2 separate regions of the Homo sapiens genome follow, and region 1 is linked to region 2. The links come from fine-mapping of genetic effects on gene expression. Tissue or cell type: nucleus accumbens. Region 2 holds a variant in brackets; the other region holds the start of a gene. All regions are shown on one strand. Distances are from middle to middle.

Region 1 (2,684 bases), 190 kb before region 2:
CAAAACAAAAAACTAAGCCAACCTTTTTTTTTTCTTTTTTCTTTTCTTTTTAAGTCTACAGCCAAGTCACTGATTCTAAAAGCTTAGAAGTTAAGGTAGACCATTGCAAGAATCTTAAGAGGTAACATTTTGGGGTAAAATCCCCAAGGCTTAAGGATACAATGTAAGTAAGACACACAAATTAAGAATAGCTATAATATTCTTATCTCTGTAACAAATTACATGGAGGATAGCTCATAAGTAGGAAAACTTTGTAAACATGCAACTTTCAAGGAAGAGAATTTTAGTCATCATACCTATTAACTATACAAGAATGCCAATACATTTTGAAATTTTATCTTGGTCTCTGTGCTTAAGCTGGAAATTTTTTTTCAAAATATATATCTTAAGTCATGTAAAAAAAAAAGCAGTAACTTGAGGAAAACCTTTTATCGACCCTTAATTAAAAGAAGGCCTTAAATCAAACCTTATTAAGAGAAGTATAAGCTATATTGTCCGGTCATGTTTGAAAGAATACATGAAAACTGAACATTCCTCAAAGTTAAGGCATGAATAGGACTAAGGACATGTACGTTTTTTGTTTTTGCAATGAAAGGCACACTATGCAAGCCAATTTACCTGTAGAAATATGTTTCTTAACTCATGAGGATCCCCTCGCTTAGTTGTCTGCACCTGTAAGCAAAAAAGAAAAAAAAGCCAGTTAATGCTTCACTAGAGACCACACAATCTCTTCAGATTAGAGGTCACATGGCTAACAATCAATGCTCCTATCTTTTATCATTTAGTTTAAAACAAACTAAAAGCCCTAATTGCTGATAAGAACTGTCAAACTGGATAACTGTGACTAGAGGGCAGAAAAACAGGTGCGAATAGCCTAAGATACAGCAAAGCTATCGGACAGTGCTTCCTCTGGACTGGAAAGGGAAGGCAATGAGGATCTTTTACTTTATTCCACATCTACTAGCAACACAGTAGTAACCACCCACCTTCAAATCAAGAAGCTAACAAGAGTAGATCAACAGGAAAGTTAAATCACCCAAATTAATCACTTGGCCTAGCAGCCTTTCTCCATAAAAAGCAAACCCAACATGTAATTATCTCCGCGTCCCTCTCCCCATCCAACCTAAAATATGAGAGCTGCCACAAATACAAATACTTTCCATACCCTGCAATCTGCAACGCAAAAGCCAACCACTGCCCTCGGCCTTATTGAGGCCCCAAATTACTCAATACTTACTCCCTCCCCCACCGCAATTCACTGATACCCTAGGTATCCCCAGCTTTACTTGCCACTTCCTCCCACACCCTTTCTGATGCCCTCCAACTCCGGACTCACAATCCCATGCACCTAGGACAGGACATTACTCTTCCTTCACTGACCCGTGTTACCGTACAAGCCCCTTCAACTCACAATCCCTCCTCCTTCCCCTCCCCCAGCCGGGCATCCCCTCCTCCGGTCCAAGCCCCGCACAGCTCTCCCCGCAGCAAGCCGGAGCCCCAGGACAAGCTATCTAAGACCTAGACAATGAATAAAATGGGAAGCAGTGGGGGGCTGCAGGCAGGGCGCTCGGAATGTCTCTTATGCAATAAAAGCAGCAGCAGAGAGTTGGAGTCACCTTGACCGCCATGCTGTGCTCGGAAGCCGGGGACGAGCGAGTGAGCGAGCAGGGCCGAGCTGTCAGGGCGCGCGCGCGCCGTCTTCCCGGCCGCGCCCGCCCTCCCTCTCGCCGGCGCCGCGCGCGTCCCTATGCAAATGAACTCGGGGCGCGCCGCGTGCGGAAAGGGGCCCGGCGTCCCGGCCAGAAAGGCAGCTGGTCCAGGGCCGGCCGGCCGGGCGGAGGAGGGGGACGCGCCTCCCACGGGGAAAACAAGCGCGACCCATGGGATCCCGACGCGCCGCGTGGTTGCCACAGCTAGGTCGCCGCCAGGAAAGCCCCAGGTTTCCTAAGGCCTCTTAGTGGGTGTGGCTTTGGGCACCGACCAGCCAAAGTCGTTTTCCCCGAGGCTTAAAGGAACATTTGGGGCCTATACTGAGCAAGGTTCCGACGGATCAAAGAGCACTTCCCATTAATAACAATGAATTAATGACAACTGATGGCAAATACCGACAAAACAAGATTGGGAACCACTCACTCTAGGGAAAACCTACGTAAACATAATTTGAGAAATATGCTCCTAAATTGGCATGGGACGAATACGCTGAATTTATTTTTGCTTTGCGTGCTATTACAACGGTTTATTAGTAGACTCGCTCCACTTTCCTAATCACCCAAATCCTGTGTGCAATGAGAAAAAAAACTCTATGTGTCTTTGACAGGGCTGGCAATGAATCGCTTGCCCATACATGAACAGAAAGTAATTCTCCATTCGATTTCTAGCCCTACCTAAGAAGTAGAAGAAGCAGTAACTCTATCTTGAACCAAAACAATGTTTCTAAACCCGTCTTGCCAATATCACTGTATTAGGCTACATATTGATTCAAACATGTATGGGCATCCATTATATGCCTGACATGGTCCTGCTTGTAAAAAACGCAAATAACCTATAGCCCCCACCCTCTAGGGGCTTACAGATGGTCAATGCTTCTCCACAACCCCAATCACATGTGTATTGTGTGTATGTGTGTCTGTGTGTGTGTGTGTTGAGACTGAGTCTCGCTCTGTCGCCCAGGCTGGAGTGCAGTG
Region 2 (2,684 bases):
ATTTGTGTAGAAAAAGTTACTGAAAACAAAACGCCACTGCATCAGTGTCCCAGCAGCATGCACATATGACTGTTTCTGTTTTTCTTTTTCTACCCCCTTTTCTAGCTGCTGACTGTTGTGGTTAAACTTCATTACATCCTACACAGCGTTGACAGCTGATGTATTTAGCAGCATGTACTCCTTCGTGATTTCTAGATTATGCCCACCCTTGTCTTCCTTCCCCAGAATCTCTTGTTTTTCACTGCCTGGGTGTGCACCCTATAGTGAGAAGACAGGGGTGGGCCCAGAGGGGTGGGAGGATTTGGATTGAGGTAGGAGGCAGCTCAGTGGAGCACCCTCAAGGCAGGTCCACACCTGGACGGGGATCAAAGGAAAGTTGGTCCTGGGGCCTTGACCTGTGCCCCTATGGACTTGATTGGTCCATAGAAGGACTACTCTTTCGGACCCATGCCCTCGAGGATCGCTGGACACCCAGCAGGTCCAAACCCTCTTTGGACCAAAGAGCCCCCACCTAGGCAGCTCAAGAGGTTCAGGTGAGAGTGCAGAAACGGCTTGTCAGCCTTGTGCCCTACCTGGTGCCAATGTCTGGAGTGAAGCTATTTGAAGTCAGGCCCCTGCTCCCCACAACCTGCACCAAAGGAGGCTTCCCTCCTTTGCATCCTTCCCCAGGACTTCTTTGAGTGAGGGGTGTGGGCAAGGCCCAGGACCCAGTAGTAGGCTGGGAGACCTAGTAGCCTGGGGGACAGGGAGAGGGGGCGAGGAAGCCTGACGTGTCTGAAACAACCAGGCTGCCCCTGCCAGGCCTTGGAAAACTCTTCTGGGGGAGTCTTGACCCAGAGCACAGATAATGCAAAGACTCAGGCCCAGTAGCCCCGTGTTTAACTCCTGGTCACTATCCAGGACTCCAGAAATCTCCACCCTTCCTTCTCTAAAAGAAGAGAAATAAAACGACCAAGTTTTTTAAAGGGGCCTGACCCCTGTAATCTGTTTTTTTTTTCTGTCCTCCCCATTTCCTATTCTCACCCCCCATGTTTTTTGTTTTGCAGCAAACGACAGTGATCTACCCATGGAGGAGGGCATGGCATTCACTATAGGTAAATTGAGCTCCTCTTCCGAGTGAG[T/A]GCGTAGCTCCTGGTGGAAGCTTTTGCCACTGGCCTAGGCCCGGCAGTCCGGTGAAGGACCAATAAAGCCAATCAGTGTAATGAAATAATTCGGATGCACTGGAAATCTGATTAAATAATATCCTCAAGCCCCATCTTCCTAAATCAGATACTTACCGACACATTTAGGAGAAGGCAGCCATCCAACCTCTAATTCTGTTACCAGCATAATGTGGTGTTGGGTTTTTTGTTTTGTTTTGTTTTTTCATTAACACCCAGTAACTAGACACGATTATGTCCCTTGCTCCCTGTCAGCAAGTGGCATGTGCTCTCTGGTGGCCCGTTCCTGGCTGATCCTGTGATTGGTATCACCACCAAATTCCAGTCACCTAGGGCCGTAAAGACATCCTGTTTCTGACTGTGGGACTTAATGGAGAAGCAATTAGAGTGAAATAAGAAAATTGTTATTTGCTGATGAATGAACATCTCGAGCATGTTTTTAAAATTTAAATATTTTTTTAAAAATTGGTATTTATAAGAGGGACTGGTGTTTGGGTGGTTATTATCCACGGGGTCCTAATTAAAGCTTGATTAAAATGCCCTTCTTTCTCTAAAAAATTACGAACTAGGCAACTTCATACATTTTGAATGGCGCAGTGTTTCCTCTTCCAACTGTTTAGTTTGTAGTATACTATGTAAGCAACATCAATTATCAACCCTTGCAAGATGACAACATGAGCCTGTGGGGGAAGCACTTGAGGGGAGGGAGGAGAAACTTCTCTTTTTTAATAATCAGCCGGAAACAATGTTTAACAAGAATCTGATGAGGTCACTGCAGTAAATATTTTTCCTCTTACAGAGCCAATCATCACGGAGGGATCCCCTGAATTTAAAGTCCTGGAGGATGCATGGACTGTGGTCTCCCTAGACAATCAAAGGTGTTTGCTTTCTGCTCTGTTGCTTTTAAATTGTATGGGAAAGGAAGATTGGTCCGACGGCGCGCTTGTGGCCCGGCCGGAGCTTGCGTGCGCGTTCTGACGGCTGGGTGCTGTGTTACAGGTCGGCGCAGTTCGAGCACACGGTTCTGATCACGTCGAGGGGCGCGCAGATCCTGACCAAACTACCCCATGAGGCCTGAGGAGCCGCCCGAAGGTCGCGGTGACCTGGTGCCTTTTTAAATAAATTGCTGAAATTTGGCTGGAGAACTTTTAGAAGAAACAGGGAAATGACCGGTGGTGCGGTAACCTGCGTGGCTCCTGATAGCGTTTGGAAGAACGCGGGGGAGACTGAAGAGCAACTGGGAACTCGGATCTGAAGCCCTGCTGGGGTCGCGCGGCTTTGGAAAAACAAATCCTGGCCCTGGACTCGGTTTCCCAGCGCGGTCAACGCATCTGGAGGGGACTGGAGGAAACCCCCTTGTTGGAAGAGATTCCAAGAGAAGCACGGTTTTCTCTTTCCCTTGCCCTGACTGTTGGAGTAAAAAACCTCTTAAATCCATTGTATCAGAGGTCCTTACCTCTCTGACAGTTACAGTGATCTTTGTATCTGAACTTTGCACGTCTGCCGAAAAATCCGAACCTGTTG

What was found. PIP is the estimated chance that this variant, and not a neighbour inherited with it, causes the effect.
Region 1: SLC25A12 starts here. The variant in region 2 is fine-mapped to the expression of SLC25A12 in nucleus accumbens (GTEx, PIP 0.95).

What each region holds. Positions count from the first base shown.
Region 1 is chr2:171,892,587-171,895,270 of GRCh38, forward strand. It overlaps SLC25A12 (solute carrier family 25 member 12), which reads right to left and starts at 1,658. Exons shown (of 18, transcript NM_003705.5): 1 at 1,617-1,658; 2 at 619-672. The coding sequence starts at 1,628. RefSeq lists enhancers at 1,304-1,870, 1,871-2,437 and a silencer at 1,581-1,900.
Region 2 is chr2:172,078,169-172,080,852 of GRCh38, forward strand. METAP1D (methionyl aminopeptidase type 1D, mitochondrial) reads left to right here. Exons shown (of 10, transcript NM_199227.3): 8 at 1,047-1,094; 9 at 1,960-2,038; 10 at 2,160-2,684. The coding sequence ends at 2,238. Among named protein-coding and RNA genes, the nearest start is that of DLX1, 6.0 kb to the right of the region's middle. RefSeq lists an enhancer at 2,164-2,684. The variant T/A (reference allele first, on the strand shown) is at 1,122.